Homo sapiens: one gene and its partners. The protein of the gene in region 2 interacts with the protein of the main gene of each other region in a biochemical or structural test. Each region holds a gene or a part of one and is shown on either strand. Other genes may lie near its edges.

Evidence for each region.
Region 1: of the proteins of KLF13 (region 2) and KAT2B, one has a biochemical effect on the other in vitro, tested with the Homo sapiens proteins (2 studies listed by BioGRID, with this or other methods).
Region 3: the proteins of KLF13 (region 2) and SREBF1 form a complex in vitro, tested with the Homo sapiens proteins (one study listed by BioGRID).

What each region holds. Positions count from the first base shown.
Region 1 is NC_000003.12:20,099,323-20,106,539, reverse strand, and holds part of KAT2B (histone acetyltransferase KAT2B), read right to left. Parts: intron 6,679-7,217; coding exon 6,586-6,678; intron 5,254-6,585; coding exon 5,072-5,253; intron 1-5,071. UniProt on the Homo sapiens protein: Functions as a histone acetyltransferase (HAT) to promote transcriptional activation. Has significant histone acetyltransferase activity with core histones (H3 and H4), and also with nucleosome core particles.
Region 2 is NC_000015.10:31,322,460-31,329,834, reverse strand, and holds the start of KLF13 (Krueppel-like factor 13), read right to left. Parts: upstream 3,001-7,375; 5' UTR 2,623-3,000; coding exon 2,046-2,622; intron 1-2,045. UniProt on the Homo sapiens protein: Transcription factor that activates expression from GC-rich minimal promoter regions, including genes in the cells of the erythroid lineage. Represses transcription by binding to the BTE site, a GC-rich DNA element, in competition with the activator SP1.
Region 3 is NC_000017.11:17,812,893-17,820,109, forward strand, and holds part of SREBF1 (sterol regulatory element-binding protein 1), read right to left. Parts: coding exon 7,198-7,217; intron 6,834-7,197; coding exon 6,646-6,833; intron 6,563-6,645; coding exon 6,428-6,562; intron 6,343-6,427; coding exon 6,121-6,342; intron 5,483-6,120; coding exon 5,368-5,482; intron 5,025-5,367; coding exon 4,804-5,024; intron 4,700-4,803; coding exon of another isoform or gene 4,656-4,699; intron 4,566-4,655; coding exon 4,364-4,565; intron 4,245-4,363; coding exon 4,066-4,244; intron 3,827-4,065; coding exon 3,565-3,826; intron 3,482-3,564; coding exon 3,315-3,481; intron 3,137-3,314; coding exon 2,968-3,136; intron 2,438-2,967; coding exon 2,329-2,437; intron 2,053-2,328; coding exon 1,943-2,052; coding exon of another isoform or gene 1,856-1,942; coding exon 1,723-1,855; intron 1,519-1,722; coding exon 1,353-1,518; intron 1,040-1,352; exon of another isoform or gene 944-1,039; intron 878-943; coding exon 677-877; intron 654-676; exon of another isoform or gene 588-653; coding exon 476-587; intron 1-475.

The DNA of each region.
Region 1 (7,217 bases), on a different chromosome or scaffold from region 2:
TGTACTCTGTTAAATTCACTGTAGATTAAGACAATGAGGCTGAGTCAATGTGTGTGTGTGTGAGAGAGACAGAATGTGTGTGTGTGTGTGTGTGTGTGTGTACTTCTGGTGTTGTTTTAATAAATTGATTGATATTATTATTGCACACAGTGAGACAGAAAGAAGGAAACGGACGTGCATGAGCACATGTATTCCTCCAAAGAAGTAACTGTAGAAAAGATTTTACCTACATGACTGATTTCGGGTCTACTAAAAAGAAGCAAAATGATAGTTCGTTCATTTTTGTATGTCTAATAAAGATGGTATTTGCATGCTATTTTCTTACTGTTCAAATAACTCCCAGATTTTTCACATCATGATGATGATTTGTAACTTCTGTGAACAGAAATTAAAAATGTGAACACAGAAGACCATGTCATTCTACTGACTTGCTGAACTGAAAATCCTGTGGTTTTCAGGAATAAACTGATCTGCCCTAGTTCACAGGGACTGAGGCCCAGTTACTTAATTAAAGTCCAGACTAGAAGTCAGATCTCCTGTTTCCTAGTGTTCTTTCCATGCTTCCTGATAAATCTGTTCTAGACTTACATGTCTAATAATGAATGCTCAGTATACATGGCAATAGGCTGTACATCATAGAAGAATGGCTAAATAAAACTGTTTCCCAAAAACAAGTTAGTTCTAGCTAACTTGCTATGTATTCTTTTTCTTCTTCTTCTTCTTTTTTTTTTTTTTTTTTCAGACAGGGTCGTGCTCTGTCACCCAGGCCGGAGTGCAGTGGTAGGATCATGGACAGCTCCAAGCAGCCTTGACCTCCCGGGCTCAAGCAATCCTCCCACCTCAACCTCCAGAGTCGCTGGGACCACAGGCTCATGCCACCACAGACACATGCCACCACACCCAGCTAGTTTTTTATTTTTATTTTTGTAGAGATGAAGTCTCATTCTGTTGCCCAGGCTGGGCTCAAACTCCTGGGCTCAAGCGATCCTCTCGCCTCAGCCTCCCAAAGTTGCTGGGATTACAGGCATCAGCTACTGCACACAGCCACTCTGTATTCTTATGAAACATCTCCCCAGTGTGGGGGTAAGCTTTAACTTTCAAAAGTTCTACACAATTCAAAATCTAAGACTAATTACTTGCACTTTCCTTCAGCAGACTGTTGGACAGTTGTATTTTAAGAAGTCATAATCCTGTGACACTTTCTTTTTAGGTTATTTCTTCATGGAATTAAATAGTGTACTATCATGAAATTCAGGAACTTCAAAATATTTGCCCACATTTTTTTCTATAACCACAATTGCTCCTGGGAGTATATATAAGGTACAGTTAACATACACTTATGTAACAATATTTAGGTTGAGCAAGGTGGCTCACGCCTTTAATCCCAGCACTTTAGGAGGACGAGGTAGGCAGATCACCTGAGGTCAGGAGTTCGAGACTAGCCTGGCCAACATGGTGAAACCCCATCTTTACTAAAAATACAAAAATTAGCCAGGCATGGTGGCACGCACTTGTAATCCTAGCTACTTGGGAGGCTAAGGCAGGAAAATCGCCTGAACTCAGGAGGTGGAGGTTGCAGTGAGCTGAGTCGCGCCACTGCACTCCAGCCTGGACAACAGAGTGAGACTCCATCTCAAAAAAAAAAAAAACAAAAAAACAACAAAAAAAGAATACTTATATTTTTCTTTTCTTCAGAACAGAGAAGTAATTTAAGCAGTACTACTGTTCAGTCTGCTTTTAATTTTTATGGAATAAATATTTACAAGTTAGCTCTGTAATGAACACAATCATTTTCTAAGTCCAGTCTTTTCCACAAAGAATCCTGTTTAACTTCATTTTCAGACTGATATACTGCAAACATTTTCGGCACATCTTTGTTCTAATATTTACAGTAACTGCTGTAAGTTATAAGCTGAACCAGCGTTATAGGTCCTGAGGTTCTCTTACAGCAACATCAAGATAAAGCCTGCTGGTGCCTGCAGCCAGTAATATTACCCATTTTTGAGAAGATCAGTATCAGTGAGACATCATGCTGTGGTGGTATGTGGTTTTTTTAATTCCCCATGTGGTCATGGCAGTGAGGTTTTACTCCGAATATTGATTCTCCTAATTTTCACAGGTTGTTCCTCTCTACTTCCCTTTCCTCATCAACATGACGTGATGGTGGGGACGTGGGGGAGGTTGGTGTCATCTACCTTCATTTCCTTATTTATTATTAATAGGGGCTATTGGTCTACATTTCACCTAGAAATCAGCACGTTTCAGAACTCATTAGGGCATATTCATTTCTGTTTCTCTCAGCAAGTTTCTCTTTCCCATTGTCTGACTCCACTTTTTGCCTTCAGCTGTTGGCTCAGGAGGCTGGGCTATAAAGGACTCTTTTGCTGTTTTTCTATTCCCTGCTATCTTAATTTCTAAAGCGATATTCAAATAATTACACACTCACTCAATTATACATTTAAGGCTTTAGCTTAATAAGCTCCACATTGGCAGTGACTGAGTTTTAGAGAACAATGTGCATGGGAGGAAAATGATGATGAGCATCTTCCCAGCACCTGCTCTGTGTGTCAGAAACTACATACAAACCACCCATGGAATACTCACAAAAGTCATGACACTTGGACAGAGAAAGAAACCAAAAGTCTCTTTAGACCAGAGACTGGTCTAAAGCTCATGTAAAAAGGGAGAGATGGACCCACACCATTCAAACCCAGCACTCATCCAAACCAATTTCCATTTTTACTACTTCTTAAGTATTCATAAGTGCCACCAATTTCTTAGTAATTCTCAAAGGCTGCCTTGCATTTTTCTTCTGTTTTCTAAAATATCATAGCTGGGCACAGTGACTCACACATGTAATCTCAGCACTTTGGGAGGCCAAGGTGGGAGGATTGCTTGAGGTCAGGAGTTTGAGACCAGCCTGGGCAACACAGCGAGACCCCATCTCTATAAAAAATAAACAAATAGCCAGGCATGGTGGCATGTGCCTGTAGTCCCAGCTACTAAGGAGGCTGAGATAGATGAATTGCTTGAGTCTAGGAGGTTGAGGCTACAGTGAGCTATGATCATGCCACTGCGCTCCAGCCCAGGATACAGAATAAGACACCATCTCTAAAAAAAATAAAAATAAAAATAAAACAAAATATACTAATGTCTCCCAAGCTGCTTCACAATTAATTCTCCTTTTTCTTGATGAAACGATTATTTTCTCTGCTAAAAGTCGCAAATGCATTCAGGGCCCTGGCTTTGACAAATATTCAGCTTTGTCAATTGTTCACAGACGGGATTAAAAAATACATATTTTTGAGAGACTTATCGTCTCAACTCTTATTATAAACAAGAGTTTCAATAATATAGCAGAGTTTCAATAATACAGAACTATTGTTAATGTAAAATCCTAAAATGAAAGATACGGAAATGAAGATATAATTTAAAAACTTATTTTGAAGAAATCTGCAATTCCTATAAATATCAATTATTAAGGAGAAAATACTTTATAACTGAAATTGCATATATTTGCAAAAGTGAAGAGAAAGAGAGGAAAAGGGTGTGTTACACATGAAACTAGGTCAATGTCAGAGAGGAAAGCTTATTTTAAATTATACAATTCTTCCATGTTATCTGCTGTTACAGAAAATAACCTGGGCACAAGTGGTCTTGACAGGCTATCAAAAGATACTACTGCCCACTTTAAATCAGGAAAAAAGTAGGCACTAAAGCTCCCTAATGCAAGCTTGATGTGCCTCTGAAATATAAACAGAGAAAAGTTATAGAAAAGTTATAAAAAAGTTGAAAAGAATGGATGACCCAAGTCACAGTCCTTCAGATGAAAATAAATGTAGGTCCTTATATTTTGTATGGTACAAGTTTAAGATTTGTAAAACCAATTCTGTTATTCTGCAAGTAATAAGCAATAAAAATAAATTTCCACTTTAGAAGAAAATATATGTTCAATCCAAGACTATCTGCAGAGTTTGAATGTCCAGCAATAGAGAAATGGTTAGGTAAATTGTGGTAAATCAACTCAATGGACTATAATGTAACCTGTGAAATGTTTGATATGATATTAAGTGAAGAGACATAAAGGCTACAAAATTCTACATTTTCTTTCATTATAACTAATGTAAAATGTTATTTAAAAGGACAAAACCTGGAAGATAATATGTATAATGATGTCAGTTCCATCACAGTTCTGGAACTAAGCTAATCTTTCCTTTAAAAAAAATTTTTTTTTTGAGACAGAGTCTTGCTCTGTTGCCCAGAGTGCACGATCTCAGTTCACTGCAAACTCTGCCTCCAGGGTTCAAGTGATTCTCCTGCCTCAGCCTCCCAAGTAGCCAGGATTACAGTCACGTGACACCATGCCCAGTTAATTTTTGTATTTTTAGTAGAGATGGGGTTTCACCATATTGGCCAGGCTGGTCTTGAACTCCTGACCCAAGTGATCTACCCACTTTAGACTCCCAAAGTGCTAGGATTACAGGTGTGAGCCACCATGCCCAGCCTAAAAAAAATTCTTTAACTTCATTATATGGTCATTGCATTTTTTGAGTGAGGGCTCTAATTAATTTCAGAGTTATAGTGTAGCTATCTAGTCAACTATATTCAATAGATAAATAACACAAGCCACATATGGATTTTAAATTTTCTAGTAGCCACACTGGAATGGTAAAAACAGGTAAAATTAACTTCAATATATTTTATTTAATCCAATGTATCCAATGTACTATCATTTCTACATGTAATCAATATTTTAAAAGTATTAATGAGCAATTTTAAACTCCTTTTTGGTACAATCATAGAAATCTCAATTCAAACTAGCCACATTTTCAAGTGCTCATATAGCTAGTGGCTATCACACTGGGTATAGATGATTTACATCCCTCACACCTCAACATATTATGATAGCAATGAAAAGCAGGAGTTTGCAAGTTAAATTATAAAGACATTATCTCTGAATTGATGGAGTCATAATGATAACTAGGCAGCCCTATACTTATAGAGTCAAGTACAATTTTAGGTCTGTAACAGGCTTTATGGGGCCAAAGGAAAAGAACTTGCATCTGATTACCTTGTGTAGTTCTCTTTGTATCCAGAAATATCATCATTGGGAGATCGCAGTCTTCGTTGAGATGGTGCCTCCAGATGCCAATAGTTGATGCGGTTTAGGAACATTTTTGCCAACTCAACTATTGTTTGCCTTTCTTTTGCTGGCAGGTGACTAAATTTGTACTGCACAAAGTTATTCACACCCTTAAAAAGAGGGAAGGCAATTTCTTCATGCAGCTATGCAATCATACTAATTCTGAACACCCACACAGCCAGCATGATTGGTGGTTATTAGCAAAATAACAGACATTTCTCTATTCACAAAAATCTCTTCCTTTTCCCTAAAAGAAAATAGCAATCCCCAGAGGGAATCTTGCCTCAGATCACGGTGGATGAAAAGTGACAAGACAGAGAGGCTGTGAGTTGTGATTCTACGCCTGCTGAAATCCTGAAGCATTAAGGAGAAAATCAAAACCATGGACTGAAAAGGTCAAAACCCCTGAAACAAGAAAATATGACTGTTGTGCAGAATAATTATTGCTTTACTATCAGCAGAGTAGCCCACATATAATGCAGTTCTTAGATAAATATTGTTTTTACATTACAAAAATGCTAATCAAAAACCTGCTATCATGCCTACCACTGAACTAAACAACTAAAATTTAAACTCTTTACTATCATTTGTTTGAAGTCAATAAGCTTACCAAAATATATATATCATTCAAAATTATGGGCTTTTAAAAAAACTGTTAATTTAATCTTTCTACAGAATATTTCCATCTCATCTAATTTCAAATAAAAGAGCAATGAATTCTTATTTAATAGAGTTTGGAGGCAAAATAAAATTTACTGAAAACTGACTGATAAAAATGCATTTATTTTTAAGGATTCTGGTATCATGACTTCAGTAGTCATTCTCATCAAAAAATTCAGTCCAGAGTGTTTTTGTTTAGCCAAACAATCAAAGGCTAAAAAAGTGATGCTAATGAGAGATACTGACAACACCTAACAGAAAAACTCTTTACATTTTAACAGATTCCCTGAGTAAAACGGCTTCTTTCCAGGAATCATAATGTAGCAGGAAGTCCATTTCTGGGTACAAAATCTCATTTCTTTTTTGCTTTTTTTGCTTGACTTACAATGTTTTTCACATTGCTACTAAATCCCCTCACCTCAATAGGCTTTCTCAGACAGTGCCAAGCAAATGGACAAAGACTTCATTTTAAAGCACCAACAACAAGAAAAAGCACATTTCATGTGTTCTTCTTACAAACTACATGTTCTACTTAATGTTTTTCTTCCCCAAACACACAGTAAACTGTGAGTATGTAACAACCCTAAAAGGCAAAAGCTAGATCATGTATTAAATTAGGTATACACCTCTGATCCAAAGCCTCCAGGACAATTTCCACAGACTGGTAAACATCTCTAACCTGGGTATGGAGGAGGGAAGCCGTAGATAGAGATATAAAAGGAGGATTAAAAGATTTCTTCAGCCTTGAGCCAATAAAAAGAGGGCTTTTAAAATCTTTTTACCTGTTCAATGCTAGGTTTTTCAAATGGGGGTTTCTTTTCCAAAGAGCCTTCAACCACAGGTTTTCCTCTTTGTAAAATAGACTTTCTCAAGAGCTGCAAAGAAATCATTAAAAAAAAGAAAAAGAAAAACTTAATTGGTATGTCTATCTCTCTCTCCTCTCTCTTCTGTTTCTGTCTGTCTCTCTCTCTCTCTCTTACACACACACACACAGCCTTTAAAGGAAGTTACCATATTCTATTTATCTTAACTATATATAAACAAATCCTTAAGTCAATAAAATGGGCAACTATCAGGTAACCCAAATTGGCCTTCATGTCCACGGCCAGAGTTATGAAGAAATGGACACCTTTCATGTTCTGGGCAGCCTAGGCCACCCATGCTGGTCCAACAGACACCACCGTCCCATGCACTTCCCTCTTCTCCCCACTGTTTCTGGCTTTCCATTGACCCAGAGGCCTGGTATGCAACCCTACACACTTGGCACATGCCCATCCAGGCCACTATAGGTGTGCTGAAGCTCTAGAGGATCTTATTTAAAGACGTGAGAGACCAAGATCTATTCTGCACAAAAGAGGCCAGGGGACAGGAGCTGTCTACAGCAGCTGCACGGCATACGCATCATCTAGGGCAC
Region 2 (7,375 bases):
CTTGGAGGCCGGCTTCCACCCTGGAGGTAGGACTTCTGATGTCTGCACACCTGAAGGGTGGAATAGTTTCTCTGCTTCAAGAACGAGCACTGTAGCACACTGCAGACACTCAAAGGGTTGGTCCCGTGCTCTTTTGCCTGCCTTCGGTTTCCAGGCGCTCCGAGGAAACTGGCCCCACCTACAGCGGGAGGCCCGGGTCTCCAGAGCCCCTGCGCCAATATTCTAGTCAAGAGGCTCGCGCGGGGCCAGAGCCTGAAGCGGGAGATGAACCCACCAGGAAGACATCCCAAGGCTGAGGCCCTGACAAGCCGGCCCCGCCCACGACGGCGAGCCCCTCCCCTCGGCCACCCCCCTCCTCAATTCCCCGCTACCGGTGCTGCCGAGTGGCAGGCCACCCTGACAGAGGCCGTAGAAAAATTTCCCAAACATTAAGTATCCTGCCCAGCACGGGCATCATCCCCCAAAGCGGATCTCAACCCCAGCCACGCCCCAATCGCTGCCCCCACCCGATACTCAGGATCCACCTGGAGCCGAGCTGAGCCTAGCCTGGCCCCTCCCCCAGGGCCACACCCACCCTGCAGCCGCGTCCCGAGCTGAACTCTGAGCCCACACTGACTCCCACCCCCAACCTGAGCCCCCACACCCTTAACTGACCCCGAATGCCTAGAAATGGCCCCGCTCTCACCCTCTACCCCATCACCTGCCACGTGGTTTGGAGCGGCCACAAAAGCCTCCCTGGGGAAAGTTAGTCCGAGATCTGAAAGCCTCACCTGCAGACCTTGGGCCCTTTCAGTTCCAAATGGTAAAAAAAAGGGGCCTTCAGCTCTAGGGTATCCAAGGCTGCAGCTTCTTTTTATGCCTTTTAATCACTATGTGAACTATTTTACAAATGAGAGACCACCACCCTTGGTCACAAGACAACAGTATTCAGTAGACGGGTTTTGAGCCTGCCCCCAAGGTAGAAGAGGTGAGTGTCACAGAAGAACTCACGTGAGCTCAGAGGAAGCATACAATTCTTTACACCAAAATGGGGAAGGATTGCCGTCCATTAAAATATTTTCATCTTTATGTTAAAAACGAAACAAAAAGGGGGGAGGGAACCGCCACAGATGAATCAACTACAAAGTATCGGGCCGCGCGTGGGAACTGTTGCCGCTGGGCTGGCGGGGGCGGGCGGTGATCCCCAGGCTGGAGGCTCAGCGCCCGCCCTGGTGCAGGTGCCGCCCGCCCCGCACCGGCCCAGGGCAGGTGAGAGGTGGGCAGGCGAGAGGGCAGCACGGAGGATGGGCAGCGGCCAGGGCATTCCTTTCCGGAGAGAGCCTCGAGGCCGAGGAGCCTAGGGCCGGGCGCGCCCCCGCCGGGCCGGATGGGCGGGGGCTCCCACAAAGAGCCGCAGGCGGGGAGCGGGACCCGGGACCGCCCCCCGCATCGCCAAGCGCCGCCGCTGACTTTGGTTACGACAAATTAAACCTTAGAGCGCTGGAAAAATTACAGGAAGAAGAGAGCGAAGAATGTGCCGAGTGGCGAAGGAAACCTTGTCCCTGCGTGAACTTCGCCCGCCGCGCGCCGGGGCCGGCCCCTCCCCTCCTGAGCGCGCGCCCGGGCAGCGGGGGAGGAAACGAGGAGGGACCCCGGAGAGCGTCCCCTGCCCCCGCTCCGGGCGCCCCACCGTCACGAGTGCCGCCTGCGGTCCACACCCAGGCCGCCCGCACCTGCCCGCGCCGCCTCCCGGCCGGGAGGGGTCCCCGCCCCCAGCCCAGATGACTATATCCGCCCCCGCGGCCCCACCCGAGCGCGCCCGGGGAGGGGGCGTGCCCGGCGGGGGCGCGGTCGCCTGGCGGGCGCCGGCTCCGAGAGCCAAGACCCGCCTCGCGCGACGCGCGGGGCCAGCCGCGGGTCGGAGCGGCAGGGGAAGGGGCGAGGCCCCGGGCGTTCCGGCCCGCCCGGCCCCCACCTCGCGCCCCATCGGGGACTCCGGGGGCGTGGTCGGGCAGCTCGCGCCGACCCCGTCCGCGCGATCCGGGCGCCCGCGCCGCCCCACTGACCTGTGTGAGTTCTCAGGTGCGCCTTGAGGTGCGAAGATTTCCCGTAAACTTTCTCGCAGCCCGCGTAGTGGCACTTGTGCTTCCTCTGCGGGGACTCGAGGTCGGCGCGACTTCGGCCCCGCCGGACCCTTTGTCTGAGGCCGGGCTCGCCGCTCCCCGCGGGCCCCGGCTCCCGCTCGGGCTCCAGCCCCGCCTCGGGCTCCGGCTCGCTCCACGCCGGGCTGGGGGGCGCGGCCGCCGCGCCTTCGGCGCCGGGGGAGGTGGGCTCGGGGGCGGGCGGCGGCAGGCGGCAGGGGGTCCTCGCCTTCCGGGCCGCGGCGCCCTCCCTGCGCTCCGCCGGGGCGGGCGCCGGCGCTTGCTGGTTGAGGTCCGCTAGGATCCGCGCCACCACGAAGAGCGAGGCGCTGTCCTTACCGTCGCGGCGCTCCTCGACGCGGGGCAGCGTGGGGGTGGCGGCCACGGCCGCGCCCTCGGGCCGGGACTCCGGCCCCTCCCGCGGCCCGTGCACGACCGCGCGGCTCGACATGGACACGAGGCACTCGGCGGCGAAGTGGTCCACATAGGCGGCGGCTGCCATGCTGCGGGCTGGGGCCGGCGGCGGTGCTCTTGCTGCGAGTCGTCAGCCGCGCATCCGCACCCACGGCCTCGGGAGAGCGGGCGGGGGGCGGGGGCGCGGCGCGCCCTCTCCTCGGGCTGGGCTGGGCTGGGCTGGGCGCGCAGCCGCCTGTGCCGTCACCCGCGCGGCTCCGCGTCTGCGAGGCGCCGGCCCGGCCGGGCACCGAAGAGTGAGCGCATGGGGCGCGCGGGCGACTGGGGTCCCCGCGCGGCGTCAGGGGCGGCCGGTTCTAAGGATGCCGAGCGGCAACGTTAGGGACCACCTCGCCAAGTCGCGGCCGCAGCTTCGCCGCGCATTGTGGCAGGCGGGACAGCTGCCGTGCGCGCCGCGGCTCCGTGTGGGCGGCCCGGCCCCGGGGGTGGGCGGGGCCGGGGCCACATCTGGACCCGACGTCAGCCCCCAGCCACATCCTGGCGGCGCAGGTTACAGGCGGCGGCGGCTGCGGGGAGCTGCGCGCGCGGAGGGGGCGGGGACCCCAGAGCGCGCACCGGCGGAACGGAGCGGTCGCGTGCCCGCGCCTGGGCAAGGGGGCGTGACCGAGGGCCGGGACAGACGCCATTGGTCCGTGAGTGCACGGCCAGGCCAATCCGAGCCGTTAGAGGGGCGTGCCCGGTCCCGGGCCCTGCGCGCGCCAGTGGGCGTGTCCCCTGGGCCGGTGGGAGGAGGGGCGGAAACTGGAGCGGGGCGCGCTGACGCATGACGTCCGGGGGCGGCGGGCCGGGTAGTCGCGGCGCGGAGCGGCTGCTTGTACCCCCCGCGGCGGGGACACAGCGAGCACTTCTCTGCCGGAGCTTTTATGTGGTGACAGCCTTGGCCCCCGGCATGGAGGGGAGCGGTTTCTGGAGGGCGCCATTTGTTCCTCCCGCGATGGGCGCCGGCGGGGAGGCGTGTCTGCCCGGCCGGGCGCGGGGCTGCCTAGGGGCGGAACGCACTCGCGCCGCGCCCTCCGCCGCCGGCTTGCCGGGTGGCCGCGCCTAGAGCCTCAGGCCGCTCGCCCTCCCCACGCCCCTGCCTTGCAGAGCTCCGGGAGTCCGGGCGGGGCAGCTCCCGCGGGAGGGACAGACTCGGGCTCGTTCCTGGGGTCCGGGGTGCGGCCGCGCTGCCCTTCAGCTCGGGTCAGCCCGAGCAGGACTGGCCTCGGCTGGCGGTGAGCCTGGCAGCCCGGGTGGCGCGCCCACCGCGGCCTGTGCCTCCAGAAGCGAACTACGTGCCAGGGCGGCCGGCGCCGCTGCTGAGGGAACGCGGGGCCCCTTCCTCCCCATCCCGCCGCAGGCCCGCTGCCAACTCTTCTAGGCTGCCCCTCTCCCACCGCGGTCGGGGGGGCTTCAAACGCCACCAGCTGCGAGGACCCCGCCCACCGCGCCCCACCCGCCCGCTGTCTGGGCCTCCCGGAGGAAATGCTCGGCTGCGCCCAGCCCGCGCCTCCCAGCCCGGGCTGGGCCACCTTGCCCTTGACTCTCACGGTAACCCCTACCCCAGCCCGCGGCCCCAGCCATTCTCCAGGCCTGGGCCGTCCTCGGAGACGCCGGTGAATAACTTCCCACCGCCGCGGAACCGGGCTCAGCAAACCCCCTACTGCCTCGCCCCGTTGCATTGTGCTTAATGGACGTTCGAAGGAGTCAGCCACCCTTGCTGTGTTCTGAGAGGAGCCTGGAGAATGAAGGAGCCCGGGCACTCACCCTCAGTGGACCCTCGCAGTGGGAGGGGGGTGTCATTCTTCTCTCAGAATTAAGGTTAATAGCCGAGTTCGAGTTCTCACCAAATTAATTTGGGGTTGGAGCTCAGTAAGACTGGTTTTCAGGTAACCGACGAGGGACCGAAACGGCCATTCTGGGTTGCGTGTTACGGTGAACAGCAAACTGCATGGATGTTTGAGCACCCTCAGTATCTGTAACTAAAACCCTGAAATGCGGTCTCGCTGATTGAGTTGCTACCCTCTGGGGAGACTAAAGGTGCTGGACTGGGTCTGGTCCCTTTAGGAGGGTCTGTGCTTGGTAGAAAGTAATCGTGTTTCTTCCAGGCAGATTGTGTTGATGACATTTAATAAGAGACGTGTGTCCTGACCAAGTAATGATTCGGAATGTTCCTCTATTCCCACCACATGTCACAATTAGTCACTTCTTAAGGAAGGAGTGGTCCTACACCAGCTTATCAGCCACCCATACCCTCCTGGCCCCTTTCCAGCCAGCAGAATTCTCCCCAATCTTCAAGGTGCCACGTCTCCCCACTGGGTCACCCCAGCCGGCATACACAATGGTAGGCCGTCTAGAGTCTGCACTATTCTAGTATTAGGCTACTACAGCCATGAACAAAACAGGCCTGCCTTGGGTGAGGGGATGCCCTACGTGGTCAAGGGTCCTCTGCATTGATGCACCCCCCTAAGAGTTTTCCAAGAATGTGGGTCCCAAAGAATTTTGACTGTGCTCTGTGGCATTCTGTATAGAAAACTGAGCTCCTTGGCTGGTTTCTCAAAAATCCACTCATTTGATGATTGTCGTGGTGTTCACTGACTTTATCCCAAACCTACATGGAAGGGTCTTCCGGACAGACAGCTCTTCCCCAAAGAAAATCTCCTCTTAGCTAAGAGTCCATGTTTTCTTTTCTAAGTAAGATTTTGACAGAGATGGCATATGTATATGTGAGGGCTGGGTCGTCTCGTTTCAAATGGAAGCAACAGAAAAGCAGAGCAGGTGTGTCTGGGGCGTATAGAGACTGAAGGCTGAAAGGGTGGTTGAGTTTCTGGGTAAAGTTGGTGGATGGTTAGTATGTATTGACTTTAACTTCCTTCTGGAGCATTTGTTAGAAGGCAGAAATCCACAAAGACAGGGAGAACAAGAGAGGAAGTAACAGCAACGCAGTTCTTGAAGCTAAAATACTTAGCAGATCCAAGAAAATGAAACCCTGAGATAGTAGCTAGGAAGGAAAGCTAAGAACATACTCCATGGAATCCCCCAGAAGGTTCACTAATGGGTGGCACTACGTACCTCTGAATGTGAGAGTAAACGGGGGTGAAAATAAGATTGGCAGAACGTCAGCTTGAGGAGCACTCAGATGCCCATATCTGCACCCCAATTTCATGCAGCCTGACAACTGCCCCTTCCTTGTTCTGACGAAAGGCTGGATATTTATGACCTGAAAAAACTAAAAGGCAGCGTCTTGGGTAGGTGGACACCAGGCACAATTAAGGACAGAGGTACGGTAATAGGATCAGGGGATTAAATACACACATGGATACTGGATGCTGAGACCCACAAACCCCTTTTTGGGATTTCAGAATGCAAGCAGCCAGGAGACTAGAAGGGTCTTTCCTGGGGTAGCCAACCATGCCAAGGGGAAACACCCAGACATTCTAACATTTGTGGCTGCCCAATTAAACAGCCAGCTCACCCTATAGGGAAGGCCACAGTTAACACTGCCACTCATGTGCACAGAAGTTCTCATCAGCCTCTCAGTCCCTCCCAGGCCAAGGACAAGCAGGGAGCCAGAGCTGACCGGCATCTCAGGAAACCCTGTGTCATGAAATACAAAGCCACAATAGAGTTTTTAAAAAGCAAGTTGGAAGAAACAGACTATGCAGAAAGAAAGAAACATCAACAAAACCATCAATAATGTCATTAAATTTTAAAAGACATACAACCTGTGAAGGGAGAACATATATAAAGAAACATTCAGGGGAAAAAAAGTGTTCTTGAGATGTTTACAAGGTAACAGAAATGTAAAAGTAAAAAACCTCCTTGAAAGTAGAACCAAAATTTTTTTTAAAAAATGGAAAGTAGAGAAAAGCTAAATTAGTGGACCAACCAAAAAAATTATTGATCAATGAGTAGGGACCCAAACAGGTGATCAGAGAAAACACAAGAGAGAAAATCGTCAATGAATTATTAATCCAAGAGAGGCCTTCACGACATATGCTGAAAGGGAGAGAGCCCAACACAGTGGGAAAGAATAGCTCTACGCCAAGGCATATCATTGGTGAGTTTCAGAATGCAGGGGACAAAAGTGTCCTAACATTAAAACAGGTCACCTACGGATAGTCGGGTCAGAATGACTGTGGGCCTCTCCACAACAACCAGTTGAAGTTAGAAGGAAGGGAACAAAGCCATGGGAAATAAATGTAAAGGAAAATTATTTTCCAGCCTTCACCCAGCCAAACTATAAACCAAGTATTTTTCAGACGCATGAGGTTTCAAAAAATTTATCCCCCATGCATCCTTTCTCATAGTAGGAAGCCACCAGAGATTATACTTCATCAAAACAAAGATGTAAACCAAGAAAGCAGGAGACGTGATCCACAAAGCAGGGAAGTCATTGCAGGATGGAAGGGAAAGTAAGTCCCAGGTGATAGCTGCCCAGCCAGGTGCAGAGTGTCAGCAGCCCAGGCTGGAGCAGATCGGCAGCTCCAGGAACACGTCTTCAAGAGGTAGAATGAACAGAGTCCCTGTATCAGTCAGGAGAGGCTGGGCCACACTGCAAAGCTCAAAGGTTTATTTCTGGCCATGCTGCGTGTCCATAGGGAGGCACCTGGGGACAGCAGGTTGATGGAGCAGCCTCTGTCTAGAATGTGCTGGTTGCCGCACAGAAGACAAGGGATAGCATGGACCCAAGGGTGTTAACTATCCCTTCTTTCCCACACACGAAATACATTTTACCCCTCCCTGGGTGGGCCTGACCCATCTCACATGCCTTTTTAGTCTGAGTCTAGAGCCCAGAGACA
Region 3 (7,217 bases), on a different chromosome or scaffold from region 2:
CCACGCCCCCGCGGGAGCCCTGCCCACACACAAGCCACGGCACCAGCCGCCTGTACCTGGCACACAGGTACCTGGCGGGGGCCTGGCGGGTTCCCCTCTCCCCACCCTAGTCTCAGCCCACACACAAAGTCCACAGACTGAGTCACGCACGTGCAGTCATGTATCCCACAAATGACAGTCACCCCACTGATTCCTTGTGAAAGGAATTGTCATCAGGTAACCATCAAGAAGATGCTTGGTCTTTTTTTTTTTTTGAGACAGGGACTCTCCCTGTCACTCAGGCTCACTGCGGCCTCCAACTCCTGGGCTCAAGCTGTCCTCCCAACTGAGCCTCCCAAAGTGCTAGGTGTGAGCCACTGCGCCAGGCCTGTCTGTCCCGTCTGACACACACACAGCCTCCCTTGGTATCACATCCCATGTGCGCCCTTCCCTGCTGAGCAGACAGCACATCCCTGGTCAGCAGCTGCCCCCTCACCTCCTTTGCCACCGGGGCCTGCCCGCCGCCTCAGACTGCGGTCGAGGAGCTGGTGTGTCCGTGTGGGGCTGGCCCCCGCCATCAGCCGGGCCGTGGCCTCATGTAGGAACACCTGGGGGCCAGGAGAGTGGAGGCTCAGGGCTCTCCATCTCCACCACTGCCTGACTCCCCGTCTTGAGGACAGGGCCATCGGGCACTCACCCTCCGCATGGCGGGCCGGAAGCTCTGTGCCAGCCGCCTCAGGCTGCTCAGGTCCCGTTGGAAGCCACGCAGCTCAAGGGCGGAAGCCTGGGGCCTGCTGCTGGTGCCCTGGGCTGCTGGGGCCGGGGCCGGGGGCTGCTGCTGCCGCCACAGGCTGGTGCGCACCACAAGAAGCAGGTCACACAGGAACAGCTGCACGGCCTGGGGGTGGCAGGCAGGGCAGGGGTCACCAGGGCTCCAGCTCTGGGAGGGGCAGGATGGGGGCCCGTGGTGCCAGGGGCCGGCTCCGGGCTGCACTGCCGAGGCACTGCACCCGCCTCACACACGTGCAATGCAACAGCAATGCACCGCGGGGCCGCCCGCCTCTCTCGGCCCCCACACCCGCCACCGGCCCGGGAGCAGCTGTCCAGCCCTCCTGATGCAGGGCCTCCAAAGGGATCCTACCACACCATCCACCCCCCTCCTCCCAGGGATGGGGAAACTGAGGCCAGATAGGGGCAACCCCTCTCCTCTGGACAGAAGCCTTAGCCAAAAAGCAGGGTCTGCTGGACCCCCTATCCTGTGCTGCTTGGGCTAACCCCATGGTCTTCTGCAGCCCCTGGGGGCTGGGGAGAGGAACCAGGGAATGGAAAGCTGAATCCCCCAGCCCTGCCAGGCCCCTGACCCCACCCCTCACCTTGTCAATGGAGCTGCTGGCTGGTGTGGTAGCCAGGCTGTCCTGCAGGTACCCACTGGCCTTCTCACAGATGGTCAGGCTGGCTGGACCAGACTCTGCCTTGGCACAGCCCAGCAGGGCCCGGGCAGCCTTGAAGGAGTGCAGAGCTGCCCTGGGCAGGGGTCTCCTGTTGGGACCAGGGCAGAAGAGTGCCAGTCAGACCAGTCCACAAGCCCTGGCTGAGTGCCCCCCACTTCCCTGGCTCGAGTTCCCTGAGGAAAAAAGGTGGTGACTCCTCCTGCACAGAACAAAGGCTGAGTGAGGCACAGTGCCCAGGGGATGAGGAAGGCTGAGCCCGGGACCAGGCAGGAGGAACCTGCCGTGCACTCACTCAGACTCCTGCAGCACCCGGGGCAGGTGCTCCACCAGCGGGCACAGCCGCTCAGCCGCCTCCTCATCCCGCCGCAGCCAGTGGATCACCACAGCTGTCAGAGAGGCCCACCACTTGGCCACCGGGTCTACGCCTGCAGAAGAGGGAGGGTCCCCTGAACCCTCAGTCACGCTGCACGGGGGAGCTGAGAAGGGAGCCAGGACAGGGGCCGGGGACTCACCGGTGGTGGTGGCCATGCTGGAACTGATGGAGAAGCTGTAGGCAGGAGCCCCCGCAGCATCAGAACAGCTGTTCAGCAGCTGCAGGTACCCGAGGGCATCCGAGAATTCCCTGTGGAAGGAGAGAGCTGGCTGTCGGAACAGATGGCAGGGGTCCTAGGAGGGTGCTCCCCACCTGCCCTCCAGAGTACAGCCTGGCCCCTGGCTCTGCAAAGTGCCACTGTCTCCTCCCACAGGCTGGTGGGGAGAGGAAACTCAGAGAGGAATGAAGCGTGCATGGCACGCACGGTAGCCCAGCTCTGGGCTCTCTCCACAGGGTTGAGGCCAGAGCTATTCTCAGAATCCCGCCGGAGGGGCCTTGCCTGGAGGAGGGCACAACGACACTTACTTGTCCCCATCAGCTGACCCAGGGCTGGGGTTGGGCTGGGTCACACAGTTCAGTGCTCGCTCTAAGAGATGTTCCCGGAATAGCTGAGTCACCTGGGCCAGGGGGTCCACTGTGGAGAGGAGGAGGTGAGTGGGGTGGGGAGCAGGGCCCCACCCTCCTCTCCAAGCTAAGGGCTTTTTCCTGGGTGGGCTGGGGCCACACCTAGGGCCACTGGGAAGTGCCGGCATGCCCCTGGGTGCAGCCCCTGCCAAGGACAGGGGAAAGCGGGTGGACATAACTATCACCAGCACCAGCCTTGGCCAGGAGACAACACTGAGGCCTGCCCTACACTGCTTCCAAAGGAAAACCGACTTGAGAAGATGCCATTGTTGGCTCCGCTTCCTTACTCCACAGCGGCACTGCCTGGGGTCACTTCTCCAATTAGCCATCTGCCCATCAATCCCTGCATGTGCTTCTGAAAGCCCCAATGGGAACGAGAGGCACCCAGGCCTTTCCCTTCCTGCAACCCCCACAGCAACAACCCATGGCAGGGAGAAGGACTGGGGTGGCCAGAGACAGCCAGAGATTCAGGCGACAAGGGACAGGACAGGAATGAGGATGAGGGACAGGAGAGGGGACAGGGAAGGGGTAAGAGAGCACCTGGGTTCCCGGCCAAGCTGTACAGGCTCTCCCATGGGGTACTGAGCACGGACCAGTCCCCATCCACGAAGAAACGGTGGCCCACGGGGTGGCAGAGCCACTGCATGGCAGGAGGCACTGAGCCACTCTGTGCCAGGCAGGCCTGGCGGGCACTGCTCAGGAAGAAGCGCTGTAGGGGAGGGTACTGGGCTGTCACAGTGGACACAGCCTGGGGCCAGACCCCGGGCCGAGTCCCAGCTTGGCCTGGAGTCCCCCTGGTAACCACTGCCACATCCCGTGTAGCTCTTACCCAGGGAGCCTCTGGAGAGAGCTGCAGGGATAAGCCCCCAGCCCCCCAACCCACTCACTGTCAGAAAATGCAAGGCCCGTGGGAGACTGGTCTTCACTCTCAATGCAGCCGCCACATAGATCTCGGCCAGCGTCGCCACAGACACGGCATCCCCTGCACACTCTGCCAGGTTCAGGGCACTCAGCGCCAGGTTGGTGGCAGTGAGGTGCCCGCCTGTGTGCTTCCCTGGAAGGCAAGCAGGCATGAGGCTGTGGGTGGAGCACAGGCAGCAGGGAGCACCTCGGAGCCCGCCCCACGCTCAGTCCTACCCATGGTGTGCAGCTGGTGCAGCTTATGGTAGACCAGGGCTGCGTCTCGGGCGCTGGCGCTAGCATCCACTCGCAGAGCACAGTCCTGCTGCAGGCCCCCTGCCCGGCCTGCCAGCCAGCGGCCCACCCAGAGACGCTGCAGCAGGTGACGGATGAGGTTCCAGAGGAGGCTACAAGCCAGGTCCAGGTGGGAGGTGGGCAGGGGCCGGCCCAGTGCCCGCAGGGCCAGCCACAGCTGCTGGGCAGCCTGGGCAAAGTCTCCCTGTGGATGAGGGTTTTCCAGGTGAGAAAAGTGAGGTCAGAGCAGCTGCCCCAAAGCTCAGAAGAGCCGTCCACAGCAGGCTCTGGAGGGGTGGTGGGGGTCTGCGGATGCGTGGCTAGGCACAGGGAGGACGGGACAGATTCATGGTGTGCACAGGGAGCAGGAACAAGGGTTGACACCCAGCACCTTCACAGCCTGGGGTCCCTGCCCTGCCCACTCTGCCGGGGCCAGCCCCTTACCCGGGCCAGGTCCAGGTCAGCCTGCTTGCGATGCCTCCAGAAGTACACGGCGGGGCCTGAGTGGGGCCGTGTGACTGGCTCACCGTAGACAAAGAGAAGCACCAAGGAGACGAGCACCAACAGCCCATTGAGCAGCCAGACCACTGGGGGCAGCAGCCACTGGGCCCAGCCAGGGCCATCTATGGACAGAGGGAAAGCTGGGGACACAGCTCCCAGGAAATCCAGAGCCCCAAGTTCACAAGCCTGGGGGCTCACCCCGAGTGTCCCTCCCAAAGATGCCCAGGCTGGCCGGTCCCACCTCTGCTCTCGGTGCCCAGCACGTTGCGCCCAGGGCTATGGTAGACGCTGGTGGTATCTGAGGGGCTGGGAAGCCCCCGGGCCCCCAGCAAGGAGGCCAAGGGGTTGCAGGACAGGCAGAGGAAGACGAGCGTGCACAGGGCCAGGCGGGAGCGGTCCAGCATGCCCCGGCTGTGCAGAGACGGCCGCTGCTCTGGCTTTGCCTGGTGGGGTTGGGCAGGGTGGTGAGGGCAGAATCGGAGGGACCCCAGAGAGCATGGGGCTGGGAAGGGGGGGGTCAGGATTCTGCCCACCTTACTGTGGGACCCCACGTGGCTCCAGGCCTCAGTTATTCTGTCTATGAAATGGGAGGTAGGATCTGTTAGGGTCTTCCCGGCCCTGTCATGAGGCTCAGAGGATATGGCTGGGAGTGGGGAAGGGGGCACCGTGGCAGGGCCCAACCTTGCTGTCCTCAAAGACTGGGCTGTCAGGCTCCGAGTCACTGCCACTGCCACCGCTGCCACTGCCCCTGCTGCCAAGGGACAAGGGGCTGCTCTGGAAAGGTGAGCCAGCATCCGAGGGGGGTGGGGTCAGTGTGTCCTCCACCTCAGTCTTCACGCCCTCCATGAGCACGTCTGTGTTCCCTCCACTGCCACAGGCCGACACCAGATCCTTCAGAGATTCTGTGGGCCGAAAGGAACAGAGCCAGGAGTAAAGGCTGGATATGTGACCCCAAATCAGAGCCTAGGCCCTTGGAGGCCTAGGGACTACTGTAGCTCCTAAAGCTAGCCCAGGACGCTTTGATGGGGCTGGGTTAGGGCCAAAGGGAGGCACCAGGTCTCTTTCAGGACCAGAGGTAACCAAGGGACTAGAGCTGAATGCAGGGCTACAGCCAAGGGTGAGGTGGGCAGGGCAGAGGGTGGGCCAGAACCAAGGGTGGGGTGGGGCTAGGGATGGGGTGGGGCCGGGAGGTGGAGCAAGGCTAGAGAAGAGGCCAGACTGGAGCTCAATAAAGCCAGGACTCACTGCTTTTGTGGACAGCAGTGCGCAGACTTAGGTTCTCCTGCTTGAGTTTCTGGTTGCTGTGTTGCAGAAAGCGAATGTAGTCGATGGCCTTGCGCAAGACAGCAGATTTATTCAGCTGCACGGTGTGGGAGGGAGGGGGAGCGCACAGGTGGCCTGTCAGGTCGGGGGTTGTGGGGTTGGAGAGCCCTAGCAAGGGGGTGCGGAGCTGCTTTGCAACATTACTGCCTCAGGACCTTTGCACTTGTTCCTTCTACCTGAACCGTTCCTCGCCTAGTAGCACCCACCTCCCAGGCCGGGCATAGGGTTAGAATGTAAGATGCAGACAGCAGGGTCTGGCTAGCTGCTGCTGTGCCTGCCGCCATCTCAGGGAGGCCTTCCCTGGCTACCACCAGGGGACCCTCACCATCCTCTTCCTGCTTTCTCTGCAACGAGCCAAACGTGGTGGTCTCGAGCACTTATTCATCCTGCCTACTGTCCATCTCCCCCACCAGAAGGTCGGCTCTTCTTTGAGGGACAATTTTTGTCTGTCTTGTTCATTGCTGCATCCCCAATGCCTAGCACAGCCCCACCTTTATTGAAGAGGCCTGCAAACCAGTTTAACTAAATAAACGAGGCTGGCCAGGCCTGGGGAGGCTGAATTCCAATTCCCTGCTTGTCCAGGCTCAGTCTCACTCCCTCTCTTCCTTCCAGTTGCCCCTGATCTGTTCCTTCCTAGGGACACCCCGGTCTGTGCCCCTGCAGGCCTCTCCACACCTTTGCCTCAGTGCCCACCACCAGATCCTTGAGCTCAATGATTTTGTCATTGATGGAGGAGCGGTAGCGCTTCTCAATGGCGTTGTGGGCTGTGCGCTTCTCTCCACGGCTCTGGGCAGAGGCCGGGGCCTTGCTGCCAGCTGCGAGCCGGTTGATAGGCAGCTTCTCCGCATCTACGACCAGTGGGACTGTTGCCAAGATGGTTCCGCCACTCACCAGGGTCTGCAGGGCCAGGCACATGTTACCAGGTGGGCATGTGTGTGTGTGTGTAGACCCCACTCCCTTATGCCCTGCCCACGTCACCCACCGGCAAAGGCCCTGTCTGCACAGTGGTGCCAGAGACCAGGGGACTGAGACCTGCCGCCTTCACAGTGGCTCCGTCTGTCTTCATGGCTGTCAGAAGCAGCGAGTCTGCCTTGATGAAGTGGGGCTGCAGCAGGACCTGAGGGTGGGAGAGGCTTGGCTGTAAGCTGTGTGTCTGGGCTGGGGCTGCCCCCTCCCCAACCCCTGGCCAGACCCCCTCACCGGGACCTGCTGGATCTGCGAGGTCACAGTGGTCGTTACAGGGGCTGCCGTGGGGGCAGCTGTGACTGTCAGTAGCTGCTGGGGGACCACACTCTGGACCTGGGTGTGCAAGGAGACGGGCGGGACCCCTGGCGGGGAAGCCAGTGGCAGGCCAGGCAGCGGCTGCTGGGTGTTCCCGGGAGGGCTTCCTGCAGAAATAAAGCATGGGGCTGCAGACACAGACCTCCCTCTCCCACTTTCAACCTGCTCTTCAGGTCTCTATCACCGACTGGCCTTGGATGAGTCATTGCCCCATGTGGCTTCCTATGGACAGTCCCTGCCTGGGCTCTGATGCAAATGCACTGGCTTCAAGCCAGGCCTCCAGTGCGAGGTTGCGCCTACCCCGGCAACAAGCACACCAGGACTGCTAGTAACAGGGCATCTCAAGCAGCCGAGTGGAGCCCCAGTTTCTAAAGCCTGCACAGACCTCTACTCACATCACAGCAGAAGCTTCTTCCTGTGCTCCTGGAAGCCCCACCCCGGGTGTCCCCTCCCGCCACACATCCCCCTTACCTGTAGAGAAGCCTCCCGGA